Linked DNA regions of Homo sapiens. The protein of the gene in region 1 binds, or shares a complex with, the protein of each later gene. Each region holds a gene or a part of one and is shown on either strand. Other genes may lie near its edges. The genes, in order: TIMM23 and TIMM17A.

What was found.
Region 2: TIMM23 (region 1) and TIMM17A share a complex: the UniProt entries of both Homo sapiens proteins name them as parts of the TIM23 complex.

What each region holds. Positions count from the first base shown.
Region 1 is NC_000010.11:45,965,814-45,980,994, reverse strand, and holds the start of TIMM23 (mitochondrial import inner membrane translocase subunit Tim23), read right to left. Parts: upstream 8,507-15,181; 5' UTR 8,371-8,506; coding exon 8,265-8,370; intron 5,542-8,264; coding exon 5,483-5,541; intron 1-5,482. UniProt on the Homo sapiens protein: Essential component of the TIM23 complex, a complex that mediates the translocation of transit peptide-containing proteins across the mitochondrial inner membrane.
Region 2 is NC_000001.11:201,947,254-201,962,772, forward strand, and holds the start of TIMM17A (mitochondrial import inner membrane translocase subunit Tim17-A), read left to right. Parts: upstream 1-8,249; 5' UTR 8,250-8,273; coding exon 8,274-8,299; intron 8,300-10,027; coding exon 10,028-10,127; intron 10,128-10,257; coding exon 10,258-10,321; intron 10,322-15,519. UniProt on the Homo sapiens protein: Essential component of the TIM23 complex, a complex that mediates the translocation of transit peptide-containing proteins across the mitochondrial inner membrane.

The DNA.
Region 1 (15,181 bases):
GCACTCCAGCCTGGGTGACAGAGCGAGACTCCATCTCCAAAAAAAAAAAAGAAAAGAAAACTTAAAAAAAAAAAAAAGGCTGTGATGAACATTATCAAGCAAGCAAAAGTGCACGTTAGCACCAACTCATTCTCCTGCTAGTATCAACTGAAAAATATAACAAGGGTTGCAAGCAAACGTCCATCAATTCACACACAAACAAGGTTGTTATCAAAGTATGTTAATATATTGAATGTATAGAAGATTTACTAAAAACCTCTTGTTAAACCTGTTCTGCTGACACTCCAGGACACTAGTATTACTAAAATCCCAAGTACCAGAGCTTGCTGACATGGAAGATAAATCCAAGAATGGGTATCAATGTACTTGCTGGGGGAAAAGAAAAAACTTTTTTAATTTATAATTTTGCGTGTTTAACACTATGGATGTTAAAAATATTTAAATTTTCCTTATTTTTGTACCAGATGTTCACCTGGGCTAACAAAAAAATTTATTACTTGACACAATTTAAAAAAAAAAATCAATAAGGATACAAGAGTAGTGACAATACAAAAGCATTAGTAAGAGAAACTACAATACTGTATCAGATAAAAGTTGGCTAGGCACAGTAGCTCACGCTTGTAATCCCAGCACTTTGGGAGGCCAAGGTGGGAGGACTGCTTGAACCCAGGAGTTCCAGACCAGCCTGGACAACACAGTGAGACCCTGTGTCTACTATTAAACAAGAAAAAAAAAAAGTTGTTGCCAAAGTCACGACATGGTGAGTTGACAGGTACTATTTTCTTTAAGATGTCTCTAACCTTCAAAAGTATAAATAAAAGTTTTACAAAATGTAATTTCTATTATCTTTAAATTTAAGGTCTCCAGAATTATTTCCAATAACAGATGAGGTTTATAAAACACTTTTTAAAGTCTGAAGTCCCTCTAGAATTCCAATGGAAGATTAAATGTTCATGATGAAGAATGAATTCACAAGTTTTTGGGGGGATATGAAATATTTTATGTCTAACCTTAATAAGCCCCACCTAGCAATGCAGGGCCACAATGATATTGAATTTTAACTAGATCTAGAGTACAACCTCTAAGTGTAGATTCAACATTAAAGCAAAATACATGCAGCTAGTTTTGAAATTTTGAGTAAACTGACAAAGGAGTACTTTTAAAGTAAAAAAATCAATGAACACCCAATGTTAAAATATAACATTTGAAAAACATTTCAAAAATAATGAAGCTTTAAATTGGCAAGGTCCGAACCATCAACTTGCTTCAATTTGAACACTTAACGCAAACAAGAAATGCAGCAGCTGTCAGATGCCGTTAGTGATTCAACTGTGAAATAAAAGGTTCCAACCATAATGCTTAAAAAAAAAAAAAAAAAAAAAAAAAAAGGCCAGGCATGGTGGCTCATGCCTGTAATTCCAGCACTTTGGGAGGCCAAGGCAGAAGGACCACTTGAGGCCAGGAGTTAAGAGACCAGCCTGGGCAACCAAGTCAGATCACATCTCTACAAAGAATGTAAAAAAAAAAAGAATTAGCCAGGCATGGTGGTGTTCATCTGCAGCCCTAGCTATCTGGGAGGATGAGGCAGAAGGACCGCTTGAGCCTAGGAGTTTGAGGTTACAGTGAGCTATGATGCTGCTACTGCAACTCCAGTCTGGGAGACTTTGTCTCTTAGAAAAAAAAGAGAGAGAGAAAATGGAGTTACTGATCTGTATCTCATGTATCACACAATCCACTTACTTAGAGCGTACAATTCAGTGGTTTTTAGTATATTCAGAGTCGTGCAACCAAGACTACAATAAATTTTAAAGCATCTTCATCACCCCCCAAAAAAATCACATACCCATTAGCAGTCACTGCCCATTTACTCCTAACCCTTGGCAGCTACTAATCTACTTTCTTGTCCATATATTTGCCTATTCTGGACATTCCATATAAATGGAACCACACAATATGTGGTCTCTTGTGACTGGTTTCTTTCATTTAGGAAGTTTTAAAGGTTCATTTATATTGTAGCACAATTTAATAATTCTTTTTTTATTACCAAATAATATTCCATTGTATGGATATGCCACACTTTTTTATCCATTCATCAGTGGATAAACATTTGGTTTGTTTCCATTTTTTGGTTATTATGAATAATGCTACTAGCAACATTCATTTACAACTTATGTGCACAGAGGTTTTCAATTCTCTTGAGTATGGAGTATACGCAAGTGAAATTGCCAGTCATAAGGTAACTCTATTTTTAACACTTTGAGAAACTGCCAGACTGTTTCTAAAAGCAGCTGTATCATTTTACATTCCCACCAGCAATGTACAGAGGTCCAATTTCTCTACATCCTCAACAATACTCATTATTTTCTTTTTGATTATAGTGATCCCCGTGGGTGTAAAGAGGTATCTCATTGTGGTTTTATTTCTCTAATTAATGTTACTGACCAGCTTTCATGTCATTATTAGACATCTGTATATCTTCATAGAGAAATGTCTACTCAAATCCTTTGCCCATTTTGTAATTATTTTTTATTAATGTTTCAAGAGTTAAAAAAATTAAATATTCTAGATATAAATTCCTTATCAGATACATAATATGCAAATATTTTCTCTCAGTCTGTGGATTGTCTTTTCCCAATTTTTTTCCTTTTGAGACAAAGTCTCTCTCTGTCACCCAGGCTGGAGTTAAGTGGTTTGATTATGCTGAGACTTGACCTGCTGGACTCAAGTGATCCTCCCACCTCAGCCTCCCTAGTAGCTGGGACTACAGGTGCACACCACCACACCCGGCTAATTTTTGTATTTTTTTGGAGAGATGGGATCTTCTTATGTTGGCCAGGCAGGTCTCAAACTCCTGGGCTCAAGTGATCCTCCCGCCTCAGCCTCTTAAAAGTGTTGGGAGTATAGGCACGAGCCACTGCGCCAGGACTTTTTCCATTCTTTATTTATTTTTTTATTTTTTTTTTGAGACCGAGTCTTACTCTGTTGCCCAGGCTGAAGTGCGGGTGGCGCGATCTTGGCTCACCGCAACCTCTGCCTCCCAGGTTCAAGTGATTCTCCTGCCTCAGCCTCCCAAGTAGCTGGGATTACAGGCGCCCAGCACCACGCCTGGCTAATTTTTGTTTTTTAGTAGAGATGGGGTTTCACCATGTTGGCCAGGCTGGTCTCGAACTCCTGACCTCAGGTGATCTACCCACCTCAGCCTCCCAAAGTGCTGGGATTACAGGTATGAGCCACTGCACCTGGCCTCCATTCTTGTTGGTATTGTCTAAACCACAAAATTTTTAAATTCTGATTAAATACAATTTATCAACTTTCTTTTTACCACTTGTGCTTTTGGTGTCACATCCAAGAAATCACAGTCTAATCCAAAGTCACAACTACTTGTGCCCATGATTTCTTCTAAGAGTTTGACTGCTTTAGTTTACATTTAAGTCTTTAATCCATTTGGTGGTAACATTTTGCATATGGTGCAGGGTTAGGGTTCAACTTCATTCTTATGCATATGGATTCCAGTTGTCCTAACGTCTCCCCTGACTTAACTATCTTGGCATCCTTGCTGAAAAGCAAGTGACTGCATATATTGTAAGGTCTTTCTTCTGGACTCTGTATTTCATTAACTATGGATTTATTCTTATGTTACTATCATGATGTGGCTCTGTAGAAAGTTTTGAAATTGGCAAGTTCAAGTCCTCCAATCTATTTTCTCAAGGTCATTGGCCATTCTATGTCCCCTGAATTTCCATATGAATTTTAGGATAAAAGCTTGTCAATTTCTGCAAAAAAGCCAGCTGGGATTTTGACAGGCACTGCACTAAATCTGTTGGTTAATTTGGTGAGCACTGCCATTTTAATATTAAAATTTTCAGGATCATAGCATGTGTCTTTCCACTTAATTTCAATAATGTTTTATAGTTTTCAGAATATGTTTTGCACCTGGTCCATTTATTTCTAAGTATTTGCTTTTTGATGTTATTGGTAATCAACTGTTTTTTGTAATTTCATTTTTGTAGTGTTCATTGCAACTGTCTAGAAATATATTTGATTTATGTATATTGAACTTGTATTCTGCAACTTGCTGAACTCGATCATTAGTTTTAACAGATTTTTGTGATTTCCCTTGTGATTTTCTATAGATAAGATCATGTCATTTGTAAACAGATAGTTTAACTTCTTTCTCAACTTGAATGCCATTTAACGTACTTGACTAATTGCCCTGGCCAGACAATGCTGAATATAAATGAGAGTAAATATACTTATTTTGTTCCTGATCTTAGGGAGAAGGCATTCAGTCTTTCACCATTAAATTATGTTAGCTTTGGATATTCTGTAGATGGCATTTAACAGGCTGAAGTCCCTTTTATGTCTAGTTTTATTTATTTATTTAGAGATAGGGTCTTACTCTGTTGCCCAGGCTGGAGTGTAGTGGGGTGTTCTCAGCTCACTGCAACCTTTGTCTCCAGGGTTCAAGCGATTCTCGTGCCTCAGCCTCTCAAGCAGCTGGGATTACAGGTAGGCACCACCACGCCTGGCTAATTTTTGTATTTTTAGTAGAAACAGCGTTTTGCTATGTTGGCCAGGCTGGTCTCAAACTCCTGGCCTCAAGTGATCTGCCCACCTCAGCTTCCCAGAGTGCTGGGATTACAGGTGTGAATCACTGCGCCCAGCCTAGTTTGTTTTTATAATCATTAAAGGGGGTGTTGGATGTTGTCAAATGATTTTTGTGAATCTATTGAGATAAGCATGTGGTCTTTGTACTATATTCTTTCCTTGATTGCTTTATTATAAATTGATATGGCACAATACATTAATTTTCAGATGTTAAATCAACCTTGCTTTTCTAATATACCCAAGATATATTTCCTAATATATCTTGGATTCAAAAAGATACTCTTTGAAACTTTTGATGCTTAGTCAAAAAAACCCTGATATTGTAAACTGAGCTTTAAAACACACTTTGCCTGTAATCCCAGCACTTTGGGAGCCTGGCCAACATGGTGAAACCCCGTCTCTATTGAAAACACAAGAATTAGCCAGGCGTGGTGGTGGGCGCCTGTAGTCCCAGCTACTTGGGAGGCTGAGGCAGGAGGATGGCCTGAATTTGGGAGGCTGAGGTTGCAGTGAGCAGAGATCGCGCTACTGCACTCCAGCCTGGAGGACAAAAGCAAAACTCTGGCTCAAAAACAAACAAACAAACAAACAAAAAACCCCACACACTTTGTAACTAGGCATCCCAATACTTTTATTGGGGTGCTTTCAAAAATTAATTCTGCTCTGGTTTTAAAAAATAAGCTTTTGAAGGGAGTTAACTGGTTTCAGAGAGATGCAGGCCAAGCTCCTGGTGTTTGTGAGGAAAAAAGGGTGAATGGAGACCAGAGACTTACTGCCTCCAAAAGTGTATGTCATAGTTCAAGTCAGCATAGCACTTGGCGTTTTTTTTAAAATGGTAAAATAATGCACCAAACTAGTAAAATCTTAATCTTACCTGCACGAGGTATCGTGGATCCACATTTAAATAAGGAGACAGAGGGTTCATACCAGTTACTAGAGAGAAAACAAAATGTCACATTGCAACAAAATTCTTTAAGTTAATCCAGTTAGAGTTAATCCAGCTCCTGACTGTTACATGTGTTTGCAATTTTTATAGGCTCACTGAAGGCGGAAAATTTTTTCCCATTTTATCCTCCCTATCTGTCAGTTTGGGGGCTGACTCATCCTGAGACCCTCAATCCCAAACCAGGTCTTCCACTGGTGGCTCAGGCTTTTACACCAATAAGATAATTGCAGTGTCATAGATCTGATTTTTGAACTTACAGGAAGTGTAGTCCAGGCCATTTACAAAGCTAATTTCTTTCACTTTACTCCAAGAATGCTTGGTGACTATGTAAATTACAAAATAAGACTGAAAAAAGACTAATCAATTCCATGGGAAAAACAGTGGTTGGGTTGGGTTTTCTGACTGTGTACATGTTGTATCTAACTATTTCAAGGCAGTTCCTTCACATATTACTATTAACGATTGATTTACTGTGGCAAGGTTGAGAATCCTTGGGTCATTACCACAGGTATGTGGGTCTGTGCAAAAGAAAACACAAACTTTGAGAGGGCCAGACCTGAATTCACTAACATTGAAAACAGTAAAACCTATCATCTTTGGATCCTTCTGTATCTCAGCAGTTATTTACAAACCTATGCATCACCCATGCCTCTATCTTTTCATCAATTAGGAGTCCTGCTTGTTCTATTTTTAATATCTATTTTGAATTGTGTTACTTATCTTCTCTATTGCTACCATCCTAGTCCAACCATCATATCTCACAGCAACAATTTCCTAACTCCTTGCTTTCTCTTACCCCTTCAATTCACTGTCTACATAGCAACTACAGTGATTTGTCTTAAGAAAATCGAAACTCCTTACCATAACTTACAAAATCCTACATTAGCTGTCATTCCCTACCTCTCTGATTTCACAAACTTCAATGGATCCAACTCCCTTGTAACTACGAAGACAGACTGGCCTAAGAGCTGTTCCTTAAACCTGCCAAATTTGTTTTGTTTCAGGACATTTGCACTAGCTATTTTCCTGGATACTTGCCTCCCAAGCATTTGTACTGTATTTGGGTCACAGCTCAAATGTCAACTCCCTTGAGATGTTTTCCCTAACCGGCTCTAAAATGGCATCCTGCTTCCATCACAATCTCAAGACTCTGCTTTATTCCCTTTACAGCACTTATCACTAACGGCAATGTTTTAATTTATGTTTGTTGGTTTACCTCAGTATTATGTAAGCTCTGTGAGCGCAAGAGTCCTCTTTTCAAAAAAAAACAAAAAAAACCCCCACAAAAACCACTATAGTCCTGCCCCCAGAAAAGTAGCTAGCACACTGTAAAAGCTCAGTAAATGGTGTTCATTCCCTGGTCCCCCAATTTACCTTCAAATCTTAATCAAATTAATTTAACAATATTGTCACATTAAGGAAGTGTATATGCCCTTTGTGCTCTGAAACTCAGAGATACTAAGATTAATATGAAACTGTGTTCTAAACAGGTAAAGTAGTAGCTCAGGCCTAGGAATCCCAGCATTTTGGGAGGCCGAGACAGGAGGATGGCCTGAGTTCGAGAGTTTGAGACCAGCTTGGACAACACAGGGAGACCCCATCTCCACAATAAGTCAAAAAAAAAAAAAAATTAGCCAGGCGTGGTGGTACGTACCTAGAGTCCCAGCTACTTAGGAGGCTTAGAGGGGAGGATTGTTTGAGCTCAGGAGTGCGAGGCTTCAGTGAACTATAATCATGCCACCGCACCCCAATATGGGTGACAGAACGAGGTCCTGACTCTAAAAACAAACAAACAAAAAAACGAAACAAAACACCATGTGTTGTAGATTCAGTTTTTTGACAAAGGTGACACCAGGGAAATGAAAGGTCTTTTATATTTTTTTGCACTACAGTCTGAACATATTTCGTTGTTGTTGTTCCTTAGTATAAAATACCTAGAGAAATATTACAAGGATTCTCTAAAAAGAAAGTACTTTCGTAAAGGCTTTATCCACGACCAACTGCCTATCTTTAGGTCCAAGTTGTATTTATCTAGTTGAACAACCACAGTTACAAAGTACCAAAGTTCTGGAAAACATTTTCACAAGACCGAGGAGAGGCAAAGGCAAGATATTTATGCCTCTGTATACCTTGATGTTGCCTATTTCCGTTTCTATAATTCTTACCTGGCTTCTTTCTTCATGTCTATATATCACCTTTAAAGTTCAGCTTACTTCCTAGCTCCTAAAGAAGGTTTCCTAGCCTGTCCCAAGTCATTTATTTCTCACTTACAAACAATATTACTGAATATTCTGCCCTGACGGCTACTTGGAGGCTCAGAATATGTCGCTGTGTACTAAAAAGTTAACTACGGGCTTGCTATTTGGAATACATTTACTCCCAAAGCTCGGCTCTACTCTTAATCAAGGGTCAATCACACGGCCCACCACACACAAAACGTAGGAGGCTTGGATATAAACCTAAGAAAACATGCATCATCTCGCGAGTCCAGGTCAATCACGGACAGCTTCCCCAGGAGATCCGTGGCCCTTTTTTAGGCCTTTCTATCTTGAAAGAGCAGCCATGCAGATACACTAACCCCACCACTGGTACTTAAGCTTGTAAATGCCAGCAAGGAAAAAAAAAACAACAACATAAAACATGGGACGCGCAACTTAGTGTAGACGCAAAAACCAGTCAGAAATAATCGCAAGCTAGGCCCCATACTTACGCGGGACGCCAGCCAAATCCGCGTGCGAGTAACCTGCTCCGCCGGCTCCGAAAAAGCCGGCCAATCCCCCTGTGGTTTTGTTGCCGCTTCCCCCGCCTCCTTCCATGGTATCGCAGCAAACCGAGTGGTTCCCGCCGCTGCCTCAAGCCTGGGTGGTCCGCTGGGCCGTTACTCCTCAATAACAGCGGGTAACCCCGCGTTGCCAGCGCCTACTTCACACGCTGACCTTCCGGGCGCCGGTTCCCGTTAAGCGCCACACTTCCGCTTTGCGGCAATGTGCGCCCCGGAAGCTGGAAGCGCCTGACGGCAGCTTTCCGGTGGTGGGAAAGTGAACGAATCCCGAATCAAAGCGGCGCATTGAGGCAGGTGGGGTGCCAGTGGAAGAGAGAAAGCAGGCGAGTGTTTACGGCCTGACTTGGGAGGCCGGCGGATCAGCAATTGCAGAAGCAGGCAGCGGCAGAGAGGGAATGGTGCAGGCAGGCGCTGAGAAGGACGCGCAGTCCATCTCTCTCAGGTTAGTGAAATGAGGCTCTCCGCCCGGGGCCGGCCCGGGGACAGTGCGCTGCTGGTCCCAGCATGAATGCGGGCCCCGGCTGTGAACCCTGCACCAAGCGACCCCGCTGGGGCGCCGCTACAACTTCGCCGGCTGCTTCGGACGCCCGGAGCTTTCCGAGCAGGCAGAGGCGCGTCCTCGACCCCAAGGACGCTCACGTGCAGTTCAGGGTCCCACCGTCCTCGCCAGCCTGCGTCCCAGGGCAGGCGGGACAGCACAGAGGCAGCGCCACCTCGCTTGGTACGTGGGAAAATAAAAATCTTTGTCCTTCGCCTCGGCCCGAACCTTCTGGTCTCAGGGACTCCAGTCACTCCTTTCTGGTCTTGTGTGCATCATCACTCTGAGGTCCACTTGCTGAGCTACCAAAGCCACTAGTGGGTGAATGGGGCCGCATTTTTCCCAGTGCGATTGATGTGAGAAACTCTGATGAGCAGTCACTCACAGGGCGGAAAATGGCAGGAGACTCCACCACCTGTTTGCTTCTTCAGGTTTGATTGAGAAATTGCCTTAGTCGTCAAGGAGATCTAATTGTGTATGTAAAACAGTAGGGCGCTTCAGCCTCTAGATAGGAAGAAAACAACTTCACTTGTGCAGATTCTGGGTCCCAGGGTGCAGAGCTATTAGTCTAAGCTGGCATTGTACCCGTCCCTGGTATACAGTGTTGAATGAGAGAAACTTGGCCTCTGCCTTCATACCTTAAAATCTATCTGGAGAGATAGACGATAGCAAAAGTTAATATAATAAAAGGTAATGGATGTTCTGATAGATGAAAGACAGATTGTTTTACCTAACTGAATTTATGGAATCGAAAATAGTCCTCCAGAAGATGAGATGCTTATTCTGAGGACTGTAGAATGAGTAGGAGTTAGATGAAGAGGAAGTAAGAAGTGTTTCAGGAGTGCAATGGAGGCCGGGCGCGGTGGTTTTGCCTGTAATCCCTGCGCTTTGGAAGGCCGGGGCGGGTGGATCACCTGAGGTCAGGAGCTCAAGACCAGCCTTACCAATATGGTGAAACCCCGTCTCTGCTAAAAACACAAAAAATTAGCCTAGCGTGGTGGCGGGCAACTGTAATCCCAGCTACTCCGGAGGCTGAGGCAGGTGAGGCAGGAGAATCACTGGCATCCGGGAGGCGGAGGTTGCAGTGAGCCGAGAGGGCACCATTGCACTCCAGCCTGGGCAACAAGAGCGAAACTCCGCCTCAAACAAAACAAAACAAAACAAAACAAAAACAGGAGTGCAATTGATATATAGAGTGAACGCAAGAGAGTGTGAGAGATGAGGCTGCAGGGTGGTACAGAAAAGTCAGATCAAATTGGATATGTAGACATTGCTAAGGATTTTGAACTCTAAGGGCATTGATAAGCTACTCAAGGGTTTTTAGTAGGGGAGTGACTTGATTAGACTTATTTATTTGTTGAAAAGTCTGTGTGGCTGGTGTGTGGAAAATAAAGAATGGATTGAAAAGGAACTCAAGTGGAGCATCAAGACTCAGTTAAGGAGTTAATCTAGGTTGGAAATAATTGTAGCTTAGGCCTGGATGCTGGCAATAGGGAAGGGGATGGATTCATGAAAGAATGGGATACTTGAGAAGAAATATTTCTGTGCTGGAGAAGTAGATTGGGGAGTTCATGGCATAAACATTATAATGGATGCTATGGGCATAGATAACATAAACATGTAGAGAAAGTAAAGGTGACCTAGGGCAGAAGCCTTAGGAACACCAAAGTTTAAGAGTAGACTGAAGAGAAGCGGCTGTAGAGGTGGGAGGAAAGCCTGGCTCGTGTTGTGTCAGACAAAGGAGAGCATTTCAAAAAGGATGCATTCATTAACAGTGTAAGAGGCTGGGCAGAGCTCGGGCAGTTCTCTGGTGAAGAGTGTACACTTAGATGTCTTCGAACTTAGGGACAGTACCAAGTAGACTTGCACTAGGCCTTGAAGGATGAGGAAGATTTGCTGTATAAATCAAGAGGAGAAAGAATTATACACGCAGAGGGAATAAGACATGCAAAAGTTGGTAAGACTGGAGCATAAGATGACAGAGGAGTGTCTGATGAGGCTGGGTGGCAGACAGGAGCTTATGAAGAAACTCAAATTCCATTTTAAGGAATTTCAACCTTATTCTGTGGTTAATGGAGAAACCACTAAAAAGCTTTTAAGCGTGGGAATACCATTTGGTTAATATTTTAGAAAAGTGGCTTTTGGACTTTCCTAACTGCAACCCACAGCATAAATTTTATCCAGTACACAGAGTAAGAAATATATGTAACCTGGCAAATAAGCCATATTTATAACTGAAATAAATGTTTCATGAAATAATACTTAATCTTTCTATGTGTGATGCATTCTTATATTGTCTGTGTTATTTCATTGAAAAATGACTGGTCATTTGTAGTTTGTAGAACACTGGATAGTCAAGGCTGTAGACAGGGAGACTAGTTGCAAGAAACAAATGGCAGTTGTCTAGTAAGCGATGTGTTTAAAGAGTATGAGGAAGGGATGGATTTAAAATTTAGGATGTAGATTTCAGAGAACTTGGTATAGGGGAGAGGGAACTGAAGGTGAACTTCAGGTATATGTTCAGGTGTACTTCAGCTTCTGTGACTGGATAGTTTGTGGTTTCATTAACCTTATTTGCATGTAAAGGAGGAGGAGTTAGTTGCAAATAGGGGTGAGGGCAGTCAGTCCTCACTGGTTGGATCTTAATTAAGATTTCTGCAGAAGAGGTACCAAATGAATACTTGGGGCTGTATTTCGCATGTTTAAATGTTTTCTGTATACCTGGCACAGGACACCAATTAACAGAATGTTCAAAGACTATATTTGTATCAAAAGCCCATTGTTTGAATTTTTGGGATTCCTTTAGGAACTTGGTATTTAAATTTTTATATATAATTATCTTAGGACAAGTAGGCGGGGTAGCGAAATGGATATTTATTCAGTATCTTTAAATTTTATATTCTTTATCTTCCTGGACATATTTCTTGTATTGACTGAAATCGCTAATTTTGCTGGGCATGCACCTGTAGTCCCAGCTACTTGGGAGGCTAAGGCAAGAGGATCACTTGAGCCCGGGAGTTCCCGTCCAGCCTGAGCAACATAGCGAGACCCCACTTCTGAAAAAAGAAAAAAAAAATCTGCAAACCTGCATATTGGCAGAACTCAGCATGTTATTCACATTGTGATGACGCAGGTTTATCCAGATGTGTTGCTATAGACTTTTTGTGAAAGTGGAATGTTCCTTTGACATGCAGGTGAATTTTATTGCATTTTGTGCCTTTTGGCTGTATCTATAGCTATTAATTGAATGACTTGCTGATTAAAATATACTGGGTACTGAATAATGTTGCTGATGAGAGTAAATGTAAATGGTGTGAAGTCAAAGTTGGAGAATTATTGATCTCAGTGGAAAAAAAAAAGACTGGGTGGAAATGTCGAGAGATAACATATTGAGTGCTTTGTGAGGCTGAACACAATATTTTCTCTAATTTTTGCTTTGTAATTGATCCACATAACCCTTAGAAGTAGGTGTTGTTAGCTTCATTTTCTGGGTGAGGAAATAAAGGCTTAACGAAGTGATATTGCAAAGAGCAGTAAGCAGTCCTTTCTCTGAGGCCCTAAGAAGGACTGATCAATGTTTTATTAGCAGAAGATACTGGTTCCTTACCTCTTGCTTTTCCTCCTTCATCCCTTCCCCAGGCTTCAGGAAGCCTGAAACTGGAGAGAGAACACATTCTCAGGGTCAGGGCTACGGGAGAGAGCTCTCTTCTTCTTTGCCATCACTGGAACACTCCTGGTTTTTCATGAAATGATGTGTGCGGTCTTTAGGTTCTTTAGACTTATCACGGGAGTACATGCTTCGTGTGTGTTATAGGAACCTAGTCATTGCATCTTAACATTAATCCTTACATTTATGGAAAAAAGATGTTTTAACTTCTAAACCAACTCAAAAAATGAATGTTTTGGCATATTACTGGTTTGTAATTTGAGGATTTTTTTTTTAGTTTTTGAGACGGAGTCTCACACTGTCGCCCAGGCTGGAGTGCAGTGGCGCGATCTCCGCTCACTGCAAGCTCCACCTCCCGGGTTCACGCCATTCTCCTGCCTCAGCCTCCCGAGTAGCTGGGACTACAGGCGCCCGCCACCACGTCTGGCTAATTTTTTGTATCTTTAGTAGAGACGGGGTTTCACCGTGTTAGCCAATCTCCTGACCTTGTGATCTGCCTGCCTCGGCCTCCCAAAGTGTTGGGATTACAGGCGTAAGCCACTGTGCCCGGCCCAATTTGAGGATTTTCTAAACTATACTTGCTGTATTTGATATAAAGAAAATAAATAGAGAATACAGAACTGTAGAAAAAATTTCAGAATCAAATGGTTTATCCTCTTACTCCCTCTGACTGAAGCTCATTTTTTCTCTGAAGCCTGATCTGCTGCAGAAATGCTAAATAAAATCGTGGAAGTAATGGTGTTTAACAATAAGAAATCACTATGCGTGATTACTTTTTTGTGATAGAAACTATTTTTGAAACATTAATCAAAGATTTTTACTAGCTGGATTATAAGTATTTTGTGGAAGGTAAAGATTATATAGCAATTGAATATTTTTCTGGTATAAAATTCTCCCCATCTGAAATGTATTTCGATTATGCCATTATTTCAATGAAAAATAAACCATTGATTTTCGTATATTTGGCCTGCATCTGTTTTGCTCCATATGGTGTTTGAGGAGAGGTAGGTAAATAAGAAAGATCCTGTGACTTAGGATGCTAAGATTCTTACATTGCAATTTAGTGAGTATCTCAAATCTTAAACATTTGCGAATGTTTAAGATTTTATTTCTGATACTAAAATATGATGTACATTTAATCCCTATTCAGTATGTTAAATTTTGACAGCATACTTATTTCTAATGATTATATAAAATGTGGCTTGTATTTATTTATATTTAATCTCCCTCTCCTGAGCTATCAATTCTACTTTTGCTACTGTCTGCTGGTGTGTTGGGAAGGAAACCTTAGGAAGCCAGAAGTAGTGATATGGTTTTCTATCTAGTTACTTCTTTGGCATCTCAAATTTAGTATAGGCAGAATTGACCTAATCGTATTTCTTCCCTAAACACAATTCTCTTGTATTCCATATTTCTACTTAAGGCTGTCATCACTTTTCAAGTCTCTCAAGCTCAAAGCTTAAAGTCACTTTTAACTTCCCCTATTATTGTGAAGTCTGTAATGACTCTCCTCACTTTTACTACTCTCACAAGGACTAGTTTATGTTCTTGGCAAGTAACTGTTCAATCTAGTGGATCATCAGAATCACTTTTGGAAAAAAAAAAAATAGATTCCAGCTCCCCTCATGCCTTCATCCTACTCACATATAGATTCTGATTCAGAAGGACTGGGGTGTGGCTGGCTTCCTGATGATCCAGATAGTTTGGGAACCACTGACCTGGACTAGTAGCTTCCTCCCTAGTTTCTGGCAATACGCTCTTCCCTCTTGCCCCTCAAATTTATCCTCCAGGCTGTCATGCATGACTGTGAGCCTCCTAGATGAGAGGAATCATGTCTTTCAACACGTTTTTTGTGCTTCTCTTTGTGGGTCATTCAAGATCCTATTGTATGGTATGATCCTGGCTGACTTTTCAACCCTATTTTCTTTTGCTTTCTTTTTAAGTTCTTTATATTTCCCTGATATTGGTGCCTTTGCTTATAATTTTCTCTTTATGTGACTGCATGTTTACTTTTCAAGGCATAAGTCAAGCCTTACCTTTTCCGAAGAAATCTTACCGATTATGCCCATGTTCTCCTGTTCACTGAAGTAGTGTCTTCCTCAGAAATAACCTTAATTCCTTTATCAGGACCTCTTTTAATAATCATGATAATTAAGAATCAACATTTACTAAGCGTAAACCAGATAATGCCCTAAATGCGTTACATGAACTATTTTTACTTAATTAAGCCTTATCTCATGAGAGATAGTTATTTTGCATGTTTACAAATGAGGGATCTGAGATACAGAGAAATGACCCCTCACAGAGTAACATAGGAAGCTAATGGGAGAATCAGGATTTGAATGCAGATGTTCTGATTCCATAGCCTATGCTCTTATCCATTAGGCCATACCAACTCTTTTAGGCACCAGTCATTTTCTACCCTGTGTCATATGTATTAACATTTATGTTCCTGTCTTACCCATATACTTGAGGGCAAATACTTGAGTTATTAATCTTTTGTTTAACCCGTAGAACCTAGCATAGTTCCTTGCATGTACAATATGCTGTATATGTTTTCTATTGGAAGGAATGTATGAATATACATTTTTTTTATAGTTTTCAAACAAAAAACTATTACCAGTTGGATGGACACTGAAG
Region 2 (15,519 bases), on another chromosome or scaffold:
AAACTGGCAGGCTGTTTGGGAAAGAGAGAAGGATCTGCAGAAGTCGGGAAACTCTTAAAGGGCTGTCACTTTCCATGAAGTTCCAAGGCTCTTGGGAAGAGGGTTCAAACCTCCCCCTGTTGTCATCTGTTTCTTCCTCTGCCGGGCATCTGTAGACAGACCTCCTTTGGGAGCACAGAGGCAGGTCACCACCCACATATAAATCCAGAGCACGATTTAGTATGTCTTCAGGGAAACAGAATTCTGGGCCGTCGGGAGAGATACGATTGCAACAGGTCTGGCATGTTTCATAGAAGGGCTTTCCACTGCTCATCCATCATGCTGCCCTGCACAAGTCACAGAGACATTCAATCCCCTGCCCCCCTTCCTCCTGCCACAAAATCCCTTCTAGAAGCCCTGGTGTAACCCATCAGGGTAGATGCTTCGATCTTTCCTGGCATCTTTCCATCCTAAGCCAGAGAGAGACAGTCACTTGATCAGCATTTGCTGAGTCCAGGGATCGTCTGGGACTAAAACTTGGCCGTGCCATTTAATGTCCACTAGTCCAACTTTAGGTTAAGGCTGAAGAGGGGAATGGTGTCCACTGGGGGGACTGAAGGGCAGAAGGAAGGCAGGCAGACTTGATAGGAAGAGTGGAAGAAGACTTTAGGGAAACCTGGGGGTTGTCATTTTAAGAGTCAGTAGCCAACTTATTGGTCAAACCGTAGGTATATATTTATTGAGTGATTTATCAAGTGCCTATTATATATCAGGCATTGTTCTAAGAGCAAGAGATATCACTAAAGATACAAAATCAGGCCAGGTGCAGTGGCTCATGTCTGTAATCCCAGCACTTTGGGAGGCCAAGGCAAGAGGATTGCTTGAGTCCAGGAGTTCAAGAACAGGCTGGGCAACATAATGAGACCCCCATCTCTCCAAAAAAAAAAAAAAAACAAAATTAGCCTGATGTGGTGGTGAGCATCTGTTGTCCCAGCTACTCAGGGGGTTGAGGTGGGAGGATTGCTTGAGACCAGAAGGTTGAGGCTGCAGTGAGCTGTGATCACGCTACTGTACTCCAGCCTGGGCAACAGAGTAAGACCCCATCTCAAAAAAGAAAGAAAGAAAGAAAGAAAGAAAGAAAGAAAGAGCGAGCAAGCACAGGGGCTATGGGAAAACACAACAAGAGGAGGCTGAATAGAAGTATGATTTAACAGTGAAGAGCTTGGGCCTTTGAGGCCAATAGACCTGTATTTGGTCCTGGTATTGCTACTTACAGGCCATGTGACTTGGGCAAGCTACCTTCTTTTCTGAGACTTGAGTTCATCATCTGTAAAATAAGGACAACAGTTATACCAACCTTATACAATTGTTGTGAATATTAAATTAGGTCCTACACATGACAACATTTCATTGATATACCCAGTACATGGTAAACACCATATTTATTATTAATTATTATAATTATTTATTTATTTATTTATTGGGAAACTCTGTTTCACTCTTATTGCCCAGGCTGGAGTGCAATGGCGCGATCTCGGCTCACTGCAACCTCCGCCTCCCGGGTTCAAGCAATTCTCCTGTCTCACCCTCCCAAGTAGCTGGGATTACAGGCATGAGCCACCATGCCCGGCTAATTTTGTATTTTTAGTAGACATGGGGTTTCTCCATGTTGGTCAGGCTGGTCTTGAACTCCTGACCTCAGGTGATCCACCTGCCTCGGTCTCCCAAAGTGCTGGGATTACAGGCGTGAGCCACAGCGCCTGGCTATAATTATTTATTTACTCTTGTCCTGGGTTCTTTTCTTCCCATCCCACCTTTTCTCTCATCTTTTTATTTCTTTCTCTCAAGAGTAAACACCCTCTAAACACACACACACACACACACACACACACACACACTTTCTCACCTGGTTCTCATTCATTCATTCAAACATTTATTCAGATACTACTATTTATATATAGCATCCTGCCAGGCACTACAACATTGTCATTACAACATTGTTATTCTCTTAAACATGTATAATTCAATGGGGTAAAAAATAATAATAACTACACTGTAAGGCAAAGTGAAGCAAGCTAGAGAGGTACAAGGAGTCTTGCAGAGAGGTCCAACTGTTAAAAAACCCAGTGGAAGACACATTAATTTTGTGGGGAGGAGTCAGGGTGGTCATCTCAGAGGGCATAACAAAGGGTTTCAGCCATGCTGGAGTGGGCTTTTAGTTAGGTATGTTGGGTGGACATGGCACTCCCTATGCCCATCCCCTCCCCCTGTACCCCCTTTGGGTCAGCTGGCCTTCACCCTCAGTGTTGCCCAGAAAAAAGCATCATCTTCTGGGGTCCCTGGCTCTAGGACCTCAGCCAACCTCTAGCCTCCCAGTCAGCTGAAAGCAATTCTCTTTCTAGTTTCCAAGGACTCTTTCTCAGGCTTTTTGCCAAAAATATTCACTGCTCCCTGAGGAGCAGTCAGGGCCTAAAAGCAAATCACTACCTTCAGCCCCAGGGTTAGCCCTGTACCATCTGGTTTCAGTGGTTTTCTTTTTTGGGCCCAGTGGTCTCTGCTCCAGGAAGACACTCAAAAAAATAAATCCATAGCTTTCAAATGTAAAGGGCAGGACTCATGCCTCCTAACCAAAGGTTTCTACACATTAACCCCAGTATCTTCTCTGTGTCAGGTCTCCCAATTCCAAATCGCTGGTTCTTCTGACATGACTCAGTCAGAAGCTTTTTACTCCCTGGAGCCCCAAGAGCTCCCTGACACTGCTCACAGACTCCAAAAGTCTTCCCTTGAAAGGCATCACAGCTGGAGCTGGAGGATTTGGGAACCCAGAGGCCAGGGAGTACAGCCACCTCCAGCCCCTACAATGAGAGGCCACTGCCCGACCCACTCTGTAGGGAGCACTGGTTGTTCCAGCTCAGAATCAACTTCCACCTGAAACAAATCCATCCTGGGTATCAGGACCCTGGCCGTTGTCTATTCCCCAGAGAAAAACAAGCACTGTTGTCGCTAGAGGGATGGGGAGAGAAAAGAAGGAAAAGAGACTCAAAGCTCCAATCAAAATGTGGTGCAGGGCAGGAGGGAAGAATGAGGATCCAGAACCAATTTAATTAATGCTTAGGTGGCTCTCAGTTGGGCTGAATGACCCCAGGAAAGTCACATTTTCAGGAATATAGGGTGGCAGTATAGTATAGCAGATAAGACTACAGGCTCTGGAGTCAAATGACATGGGCTCAAATCTGAGATGTGTGACCTTAAGTAAGTTATTTAACCTCTCTGAGCCTTAGGCAATGGAAAATGAGGATATTAAGAGCATCTACGAGCTGGGTGCAGTGATGTGTGCCTGTAGTCCCAACTACTTGGGGTGCTGAGGCGGGAGGGTTGCTTAAGCCCAGGAGTTTGAGTCCAGCCTAGGGAAAATGTGAGACTCGTCTCTAAAACAAAACAAAACAAAACAAAACAAAACAAAACAACAACAAAAAACCAGACCGGGCATGATGGCTTATGCTTGTAATCCCCACATTTTGGGAGGCCGAGGAGGTGGGATGAATGTTTGAGGCCAGGAGTCAAGATGATCCCAGGCAACAGAGTGAGACCCCATCTCTTAAAAAAAAAACCTTGTCCAGGCACAGTGGCTCACATCTGTAATCCCAACACTTTGGGAGGCCAAGGTGGGCTGATCACTTGAGGCCAGGATTTTGAAACCAGCCTGGCCGACATTGCAAAACCCCACAAAAACTAGCCGGGTGTGGTGGCACACACCTGTAATTCCAGCTACTTGGGAGGCCGAGGCACAAGAATCACCTGAAGCTGGGAGGCAAAGGTTGCAGTGAACCAAGATCATCCCACTGCACTCCAGCTTGTGACACAGTGAGACTGTCTCAAAAAATAATAACGAAAATAAAATAATCTAAAATTTAAAAAAACCCTAATTCATAGTTATGGAATTATTGAGCATATTAAATAAGATAATGCATGCAAAGTACTTAACAGCATCGGACATATTTTAAGCACTCACTGATGCTTGCTATATAGTTAAATTATATAGCTATATGTATGTGTATATACATGCAAAGATCAGGAGATATGCTGACATAGAATGACTATGGCAGGGTCCTGAAAGAGACCACAAAAGAGAGAAGTTTTCACACTGGTTCTTTCCTTTTGGGGGATGCTGACAGTTCCCCTAGAAGGCAGCAGACTTTGCCTCTGGGAGCAAGCCACTGGCCTGGCCCAGCACTCCTGAGATGAGCAGAAATGGGCAGAGGAGAGCTCAAGACAGAGCACAGGCCAGACTAATGTCTTCCTGAGAGGAGAGCAGTGGGAGGAAAAAGGGGGCAGCAAAGAGACAAGAGATTGCCTCCTTCACCTCCACCAATGTTACCTAAGCTAAAACCCCTCTGTCTACCAAATCAGCCCTGGTCACAAACTAAAACCCAAACCCAACAGGAGGCTTACTTATCCACGCCAATCTGAATTTCTCCATGACATGGACCAGGTGGGACTGTGGGTTTGGTGCCATGTACATGACCTGTGACTTAGTGGATGGAGTTCCTTAGGCCACAGCAGCCTCTGGCTCAATGAAGCTTGATCTACTGAGTACCTGGACCACATGGGGCTCTAGCAGCAGTCCTATCTTGAGCCCAGAACAGTAACTTTCAATAGAATATACACTGGTATGTTGAATCAGAAGTTCAAACGCCCTTCACCTTTATGGTGACTTTTCTCTCAAGGACCTCCACTGCTTTCTTCTACTATGCCTTCGTATCATTGACCATTCCATCAGTGAGGGCCACCACAGTCCCTCAGAATTCTTTAAGACTAACTAGGGGGAGATTAGAGTACCAATCCTTCTAAACCTTTCAAAAGGCTTCTTTTGAACCCTTTTCAAAAGATTTCTTCACTTAGCACCCTGGAACCAAATGGAAGTGAATATTTTTGAGAAGACGTGACATCTTTCTCCTGGGCCTTGCCCAGCCAAAAATGTTCTGTTATCTGTTGCAATTAAAAGAGAGCAAAGAGTAAGAAGTCTCTTTCCTTAAAGTTTCTTTGGCCACTTGAGCGGAGCTTCCCAGAGCAGTAAACTCCTTTAGGATAGGGACTGTTGGAATTAAATGAGCTGGGGAACCACAACCTAGAAACTGGACTTCAGCTTTGTAAACTCCGAAACTCATTATCACTGTGATGGTTAATTTGATGTGTCAACTTGAGTAGGCCATAGGGTGCCCAGATTAAATGTTGTTCTGGGTGTGTCCATGAGGATGTTTCCAGATGAGAATAGCATTTGAATTGGTAGACTCGGCAAAGTAGATTGCCCTCCTCAGTGTGGCTGGGCATTGAAAAGGCCGAAGAAAGAATTTGCCCCTCTTTTCCTGCCTCACTATTGAGCTGGGATATCTCATTTCACCTTCTCCTGCCCTCAAACTGGGATTTACATCATCAGCACCCCTGGCTCTCAGGCCTTTGGACTTGGACCAAACTGCATCACTGACTTTCCTCCATCTCCAGCTTGCAGACACAGATTATTGGACTTCTCAACCTCCATAATCATGTGAGCCAACTACTCATAATAAATAAATAAATAGGCTGGGTGTGGTGGCTCATGCCTGTAATCCCAGCACTTTGGGAGGCCCAGGTGGGCAGATCACGAGGTCAGGAGTTTGAGACCAGCCTGGCCAATATGGTGAAACCCCCATCTCTACTAAAAATACAAAAATTAGCCAGGTGTGGTGGCGCACACCTGTAGTCCCAGCTACTCGGGAGGCTGAGGCAGAAGAATCACTTGAACCTGGGAGGCAGAGGTTGCAGTGAGCCGAGATCACGTCACTGCACTCCAGCCTGGGCAACAGAGTGAGACTCCATCTCAAAAATAAATAAATAAATATTAATTTTATGTATATATATATATATATATATAGAGAGAGAGAGAGAGAGAGAGAAACAGAAACAGAAGGATATATATATATTTGCACACAATAAGATATATATATGTGTGTGTATATATATATCCTCTTGGTTCTGTTTCTCTGGAGAACCCTGACTATTCCTGGTGATTTAGTCAAAATAACTGATCTCACAAGAGGCAGATACATAAGCCAGTATTAACTACCAAGTGGAGAAGAATAGTTATAAACACAGGCCAGGGTATTCTCTTCTATATCGAAATCTATTCAGAAGCCAAATAAGAAGAAGAAGATTGCATAATAAATATGGAATAAGAACAAAGGGAGGTAGCTAGAGCTAGAGCTAAGGGATATTTTATCTGGGTCCTGGTGAGAGTGCAAATCTCTAGTTACTAAAATATTTATACCCACCAGGTCTTCGGTGCTGACTAAATGTCAGATTCCTGCCCTCTGAATTCCTCCATGTCCCCTCTCCCACATTCTCTCTTTGGCCTGTACAATTAAATAGAGTTAACTATTCTTAATTACAGTCACATTCTGAACACGTCTTCTCCACCTTACACACCCAAATCAGATAACTAGTATGAACCATTCTCACGTGCAAGACACATTTATTGATAATCTTTAGTTCCATGGAGGGTTCGATTCATCTGCTTACTTTATTTCCAAGCTTTTGGAGAGACCCTCACTCCTCTTTGCAGTCTTCCTTTATTTATTTATTTATTTGAGGTGGAGTCTCGCTCTGTCACCCAGGCACAATCTTAGCTCACTGCAACTTCCACCTCCCACGTTCAAGCCATTCTCCTGCCTCAGCCTCCTGACTAGCTGGGATTACAGGCAACACGCCAGGCTAAATTTTGTATTTTTAGTAGAGACGGGGTTTCACCATGTTGGTCAGGCTGGTCTCGAACTCCTGACCTCGTGATCCGCCCGCCTCGGCCTCCCAAAGTGCTGGGATTACAGGCGTGTGCCACTGCGCCCGGCCTCTTCCATTATTTATGACATTGACTTTTCCGTAAAATAAATATATACATATTTTTAAAGTTAATTACAAACGTACAGAATGGAGAGGAGCACTTTAACAGCCATCACATGATTGGGATTTTGTTGACAGTAAACTAAAAGCTCCATGGGTCCCAACCTTTTTTTTTTTTTTTTTTTGACAGTGTCTCACTCTGTCACTAGAGTGCAGTGGCATGATCACAGCTCCCTGCGGGGTAGATCTCCTGGGCTCAAGCTATCTTCCCGCCTCAGTCTCCCGAACAGTCAGGGCTACAGGCACGTGTCACCACGCCCGGCCTGGTCCCCATAAGTCCCCTCTTCTCCGAGCCAAACATCTTCACACCTTCTGGTGATCATTAGTGGAGAGGCCTGTGAGAGGCTCTGGTGTCAATGTCCCTGAAATCGAGGGCTCCAAATTGGTCATGGCTCTCCAGATGGCCCAAACAGTTCCAGTTCACAAACATTTATTGAGCATCTACTACATTCCAGGCACTGTGGTTATTATAAATCACTGAGACACTGTTTGCCCTAAAGGAGCTACGTGTATTTGGTAACAGCTTCACAGTAAGTGACGAATAAGATAGCATTAATCCACATTTGACAGCAAAAGTACCAAAAAAGAAAGAAAGAAAAAGAAGAGAGAGAAAGGAAAGAAAAGAAAAGAAGAGAAAGAAAGAGGCCGGGTGCGGCGGCTCACGCCTGTAATTCTAGCACTCTGGGAGGCCGAGGTGGGCGGATCACGAGGTCAGGAGTTCGAGTCCAGCCTGATCAACATGGCGAAACCCCGTCTCTACTAAAAAAACATAAAAATTAGCCGGACCTGGTGGCGCCCGCCTGTAGTCCCAGCTACTCAGGAGGCTAAGGCAGGAGAATCGCTTGAACTCGGGAGGCGGAGGTTGCAGTGAGCCGAGATCTCGCCGCTGCACTCCAGCCTGGGCGACAGAGCCAGACTCTGTCTCAAAAAAAAAAAGAAGAAGAAAAGAAAAAGAAAGAAAGAAAAAGGATGGAAGGAGAGAAGAAAAGGAAAGGGGGAAGGGAAGGGGGAAGGGAAGGCGGAAGGGAAGGGAAAGAAAGAAGCGTATTTAGGCAGTATCGCGTTGATTTCAGTCCACGGAACCTCTGGTGACCGGGTAGTGTGACTCCGTCATTGGTAGCCCCCCGCCCACACAGCCGGGACTCGCGGCCTTTGAGGACGTGGGCAGGGCCAGTCTCGCCACGCCGCGGCCAATGCCCCGACCACACGCTGGCCACAGGAGTCCTGGCTCCCATTGGCTGCAGCGGGAAATGGTGAACCAATGCTCATAGACCTTAACGCCCTCCTCTCGGGATCACTTCCGCCTCTGGGGTCAGGCTCCGCCCAGCTTGCCCGGCATCACTCGCGGCATTGGAGTCAAGATGGAGGAGTACGCGCGAGAGCCTTGGTGAGCTTCACCGCTGTCTTTGCATTTCTCTTGCCCCCCTGCCCACTGCCCTCCTTCTCCCTTGTCCAGGCTCCCAAGGTGCAAGCCAGACTCAACCGCAGCCTCGTCGACTTGGGCCTGGTAACTGGGCAATGCGGTCTTTCGCGGCCAGTCGGCTTCTTAGCCCTGTACTTAGTACCTCCCCGGCCGCGTGAGCCTCCCTCTCCCAACCCAGCACCCGTGTGACCTTGTGATGGATGGTAAGGAGGTCCAGACTTGAGTTTGATAGAACCTCGGAACCTCCTCCCAACGCAGGGCGTAATCGACTTTATGCGGGGCCAGTTATAATCCCCCCTGTTCGTCGAGGTGACCTTGGGCGCGTCCCTCCGTCTCGCCTTGCTCAGTTCCTGCGTTGAGGAACTGAAGAATAGGCATTTGAGGGAGTGTCATTCTTGAGGTTTTACTTGTATCATGATATGTGTCCACAGAGTGAAGCATTTTAAATGAATGGAACATAGATTTTAGCCAAGGGGTCTGGATAAGCTTCTTTATTGCGTGGGGCCTTGTTTTCCTTCTTGGAATTCTTTCTTGAGGGTAGAGGGGGACAAAAATTACCTGGGAAATAGGAAGAGGTAATAGCATGTGTTCTCTGAAAAGCCATGGACAGAAATTCATTGTTACATCCAGCGTTTATTGAGTATGAATAAACCAGACACATAGATAATTATAAAACGATGTAATTGCTGTCAGAAGTCTCAGGTTGCCAGAGTTTAAAGTTTCTAGGGTCATAGGTAAAAAATCAAATCTTGATATTTCGGTTAATCATTTGTTTTATTGTGTAAGAGCAACAACCAAGATGTCCTCAATTTGTGAAAGTGCCCAGGACCTTAAATTACTACTCTGGTATCCTAGCCTTGTTGCATGTTTTATGTTCCCCTCTCCCATAAATGGCATACAAAATATAAGTTTTAGGGTCTCCTGGCTCTTCAAACTTATCTTCTTCAAAGCAGTTATCCTCCATTCTGGATTGTGCTCAGATATGTAGGACTCAGCACACTGTAAATAGCTGTTTGATGTACTATAATGACACAGGTTAGCAGAGAGTTAAAATATTTAACTATGTTGAGTTAAAGATCTTAGAAAAATAAGGCCGGGTGTGGTGGCTCACGCCTGTAATCCCAGCACTTTGGAAGGCCGAGGCGGATCACGAGGTCAGGAGTTCAAGACCAGCCTGGCCAGTATGGTGAAACCCCGTCTCTACTAAAAATACAAATATTAGCCGGGCGTGGTGGCACGCGCCTGTAGTCCCAGCTACTTGGGAGGCTGAGGCAGGAGAATCACTTGAACCCAGGAGACGGAGGTTGCAGTGAGCCAAGATTGCGCCATTGCACTCCAGCCTGGGTGACAGAGTGAGACTCCATCTCAAAAAAAAAAAAAAAAACAACTTAGAAAAATAATGGGTTTTCATTTACTAAATCATTAGGTAGCCCCTTTGCTTTCTCTTAGTACGTATGCCCTGAAACAATATAATCAGTTACCTGGTTATCTTTGTAGTCAAAACTGCTTTGATTTTTTGACTGCCCTGTTTGATTACAGCATTTCCTCAAGTCATTTTATAGGCCAAATATTTATTGGTTGCAGTGGGCCCTGCAGTATAATCTGTTCCATTATAATCCTTACTGTATTGGCAAAGAAGATTTTATGGTTTGTGAATGAGAAATATGGTCTTTTTTTTCCCCCTGTTCTTAGCCCATGGCGAATTGTGGATGACTGTGGTGGGGCCTTTACGATGGGTACCATTGGTGGTGGTATCTTTCAAGCAATCAAAGGTTTTCGCAATTCTCCAGTGGTAAGTGGGTGAATGGTCTTATTTTATCATCACTTGCAACTTGGGTTTGATGATATTACTGGTGGTCCCATCAGTGGCTTAGAAATGTACTTCTAATATATTTTTTGTTGCTTCCTTTTTTTTGTTATAGGGAGTAAACCACAGACTACGAGGGAGTTTGACAGCTATTAAAACCAGGGCTCCACAGTTAGGAGGTAAGCAGAATTTTCATTTTAACTGAACTATTTTTTTCTGTTCCTTTGAAGATGGAGCTATTTTTATTTTTAGATTACAACAATTAGTGATTTTAGTTTGGTCTAACGGTTTGTCACAAACATATATCCCTATAGTTTCTTCTTGATTTGTAGTTTGTTTGAAAAATTAACCTGAATTATGATACCCATTTGAAAATCTTGTCTCTGTCCTTCAGACACTCGGTGATTTTTTTTTTTTTTCCTTCTCCAGAAGAAAGACAGTTATTTAAAGCTCAGGTGTGAGGCCGGGCACGGGGCTCACGCCTGTAATCCCAGCACTTTGGGAGGCCGAGGTGGGCAGATCACCTGAGGTCAGGAGTTTGAGACCAGCCTGACCAACATGGAGAAACCCCATCTCTACTAAAAATACAAAATTAGCTGGGCGTGGTGGCGCATGCCTGTAATCCCAGCTACTCAGGAGACTGAGGCAGGAGAATCACTTGAACCCGGGAGGCGGAGGTTGCAGTGAGCCAAGATCATGCCATTGCACTCCATCCTGGGCAACAAGAGCGAAACTCCGTCTCAAAAAAAAAAACCTCAGGTTCGTGAGTCAGGACCGATAGCTTCTGAGGTAACATAAAGCTGAAGAGAATGTGATCTGAAGGATTGGGGTTTCATGCAGGAGAAACCCATCAAGCCGATTGGGCTCTTCTCCAAGGTTGGTTTTGGGACATTGTGCAGAGGTCATTGGAAAATTTGAAAAGATTCTATTCATTGTACTTTGTAAACTTGGTTATTCAGAAGCTGGGAAAAGGGAGGTGACAAAAAATGTTTGTAGGTTATATTCACTTACAAAGGTATAGTCAGGGTTGGGCGCAATGGCTCACGCCAATAATCCCAGCAGTTTGGGAGGCTGAGTTAGGCAGATAGCTTGAGCTCAGGAGTTCGAGACCAGCCTGGGCAGCATGGCTGCCCATTTCCCCAGAAAAATGGAAAAATTAGCCAGGTGTTGGGGCATGTGCCTGTGGTCCCAGCTACTAGGGAGGCTGACATGGACGGATCACTTGAACCCATGAGGTTGAGGCTGCAGTGAGATTGCACCACTGCACTCCAGCCTGGGTGACAGAGACCCTGTCTCAAACAGCAACAAAAACAAACAACACAAGGGTATAGTTAGATTGGAGAGACCGTATATAAGACATGAAAAAATCTTAATACTTCAGTCGTTCCTTAGATGTTTTGGGTATCAAAATAATCTTCTCTTTGCTTTTCTTAACTCTCACAGTAATGAAGAAGTTAGTACTATTATTATCTCCCATTTTCCAGATGAGGAAATTTAGTTCCTGAGGGTTGAGGTAATGTTGTATCTTTTTCCTTTGTTCCCTGTGTAAGAATTATCTACCCTGGAAAGTAATTAGTAACTAATTTCTCTTTGTTTTTGTGTTGGTGGTTATTGTGTTATTCAAGAATGATGAGTGGTATTAAAAAGTTCACACCAAACCCAGAACCTCTAGTATATGCAGAAGCCATATAGGTTTTTGCTTGTTTTTTGAGAGGCTGCTTCTATCACCTTACGCATTTTCAGTGAGTTAAAATACCATCAGATAACTGTCACTGCCAAAAGAAGCCTGTGAAGACATAGCAACTAAATTATTAGCTGGGCCCGGTGGTGCATGCCTGTAGTCCCAGCTACTCAGGAGGCTGACGCAGGAGAATCGCTTGAACCCAGGAGGTGGAGTTTGCAGTGAGCCGAGATTGCACCACTGTACTCCAGGCGGGGTGACAGAGCAAGACTCTGTCTCTAAAAAATAAAATAAAAGGGCTGGGCACAGTGGCTCACGCCTGTAATCCCAACACTTTGGGAGGCTAAGGCGGGTGGATCACGAGGTCAGGAGTTTGAGACCAGCCTGGCCAACGTGGTGAAACCCCATGTCTACTAAAAATACAAAAATTAGCTGGGCATGGTGGCACGTGCCTGTAATCCCAGCTACTCAGGAGGCTGAGGCAGGAGAATCGCTTGAACCCAGGAGGTGGAGGTTGCAGTGAGCCAAGATTGTGCCATTGGACTCCAGCTTGGGTGATAGAGTGAGACGCTGTCTCAAAAAATAAATAAATAAATAAAATTAAAAACTAAATGTAGGCCGGGCGCGGTGGCTCACGACTGTAATCCCAGCACTTTCGGAGGCCGAGGCAGGTGGATCACAAGGTGAGGAGAGCGAGACTACCCTGGCTAACACGGTGAAACCCCATCTCTACTAAAAATACTAAAAATACAAAAAAAAACAACAACAAAAAAAATTAGCCGGGCATGGTGACGGGCGCCTGTAGTCCCGGCTCCTTGGGAGGCTGAGGCACAAGAATGGCTGAACCCGGGAGGCGGAACTTGGCAGTGAGCCCAGATCACACCACTGTACTCCAGCCAGGGTGACAGCGAGACTCTGTCTCAAAATAAATAAATAAATAAATAAAAATAAATGTAATGTGGTACTGTGGAACAGAAAAAGGACATTAGCAAACTAAGGAAATCTGAATTAAGTATGGACTTCAGTTAATAGTAATGTGTCGGCCGGGCACAGTGGCTCACACCTGTAATCCCAGCACTTCGGGAGGCTGAGGCAGTAGATTACCTAAGGTCGAGAGTTCGAAACCATCCTGGCCAACATGGTGAAACCCCCGTCTCTACTAAAAATACACCAATTAGCCGGGTGTGGTGGCAGGCACCTGTAATCCTAGCTACTCGGGAGACTGAGGGAGAAGAATCGCTTGAGCCCGGGAGGCAGAGTTTGTAGTGAGCCGAGATTGTGCCATTGCACTCTAGCCTGGGCAACAGAGCAAGACTCTGTCTCAAAAAAAAAAAATAGTAATGTGTCAATATTGGGTCATTAGTTGTGACAGATGCTCCATGCTAATGTAGATGTTGGTAATAGGGAAAAACTGGAAGAGTTTATTTTTTCTTACAAAGCACGGTGAAATAGAGGAAGAGTGAGTGGTGATATGAGTGAATTGGAATTATCCATTTCAAATCCTAGAGGTTAGCCTTTTTTAGGAAGCTATTGAGAAGTTTTTATGGTATTTTAAATTCTAAAAATACTAGGATGATGATTTTATTAATTTGGTGAGCATTTGCTAAGGTATTCAGATCAAGGTGCAGGGAGGGACAGGCAGTATGGGAAAATCATAGTTGTGTTCTGAAAGGTGTTATATTTTCTTTCTTTTTTTTTTTGAGATAGGGTCACCCAGGCTGGAGTGTGGTGGCACAGTCTTGGCTCACTGCAACCTCCGCCTCCCAGGTTCAAGTGATGCTCCCACCTCAGCCTCCTGAGTAGCTGGGATTATAGGCATGCGCCACCACAGCCGGGATAATTTTTGTATTTTTAGTAAAGACGAGGTTTCACCATATTGGTCAGGCAGGTCTTGAACTCCCTACCTCAGGTGATCCGCCTACCTCAGCCTCCCAAAGTGCTGAGATTACAGGCATGAGCCACCACGCCCGGACTTAGGTCTTATATTTTCTTTTTTTTTTTTTTTTGAAACGGAATTTCGCTCTTGTTGCCCAGGCTAGAGTGCAATGGCGCGGTCTCGGCTCACGTCAACTTCCATCTGTCCGGTTCAAGCGATTGTCCATCCTCAGCCTCCCAAGTAGCTGGGATTACAGGCGCATGCCGCCACTTCTGGCTAAGTTTTTTGTATTTTAGTGGAGATGGGGTTTCACCATGTTGCCCAGGCTGGTCTCGAACTCTTGAGCTCAGGCAGTCCACCCGTCTTGGCCTCCCAAAGTGCTAGGATCACAGGCGTGAGCCATCCGGCCCAGCCCAGGTCTTATATTTTCATAGAGAAAATAAGATAGGATTTTGACATGTCCCTGTTACTCTTTGACCACTTTCTTGCATTTTGGAAGAAGACGTTTCAGGCTCATCTTGTACTTTTCATGCCCTAGCTGTGGGCAGGGCAGCTTTTCCTGTTGTAGCCATTTCTCCAAAGAGCCCCAGTTCCTTTTAGTTGAGAATGGTATTTAGGGCCAGAAGTGGTAGCTCACACCTGTAATCCCAGCACTTTGGGAGGCCAAGGCAGGAGAATGGCTTGAGCCCAGGAGTTCAACACCCTTGACAACTTAGAGAGAATGCCTCTCTACAAAAAAATTTTTTAAAAGAAAAATCAAGAATGGTATACAATCTATATTTCTGTATATCTATACATACTGAAAATCACAAGTTTATATTGATATCTCGTATTTCCAGTTCATCCCACAGGATTCATTATTTTCTTCCTTTTCATATGTATACCTGCCTTCTTAACCTGCTTGGGCTATGGTACCCCACAACAGGCTGCCCTTTGTCAGAGTATACTCTGACACTCCATGCCAGGCTGCCTTCCTTGAGAATCTCTCTCTTGCTTAGGCTCTAAAACCTTGTTCTCGGGTGTCCAGGTGTATAGACGTTCGCCTCATCTGGCTCTGGATCCTCACACCAGGCTACCCTTTATGGATCTCCTCCTCATCCTGCTTAGACTCAAATTCTCCATTCTCATTAGTAGCCAACACTTATTCTGGCAATGATTCTCAGGGGAAGGGTCTCCTGAGATTTTAGGCTCATGAGGAAATGGGAGGGTCTTGTCAGAAAATTTTAGTGAGGTAATTCTAATATACCTAGACGTCATAGCTCTCTCCCAGGGCATAGAATTACTGAGTTAGAAGAAATAACTGGTTTGTTTTTACATAGGATGTGATGTCTAATATTGTACTAAAAATGAGGATGCTTATGCTATACTCCACTGGTACTATCCACTGGATTTATTTATTTTTTTTATTTTTTGAGACGGAGTCTCGCTCTGTCGCCCAGGCTGGAGCACAGTGGTGCAAACTTGGCTCACTGCAAGCTCTGCCTCCTGGGTTCACACCATTCTCCTGCCTCGGCCTCCAGAGTAGCTGGGACTACAGGTGCCCGCCATCACACCTGGCTAATTTTTTTTGTATTTTTTAGTAGAGACGGGGGTTTCACCGTGTTGGCCAGGATGCCCTCGATCTTCTGACCTCATGATCCACCCGCCTCGGCCTCCCAAAATGCTGGGATTGTAGGCGTGAGCTACCGCACCTGGCTGTTTTTGTATTTAGATAGAGTTTAAGTGCAAAGTAATCTGCTGATTTAAGGTTGTTTTAAATTCATATCTGAGGAATAAAGGATGGACAGGCAATTTCCATCCCTTTGATGTTCCATAGTTCT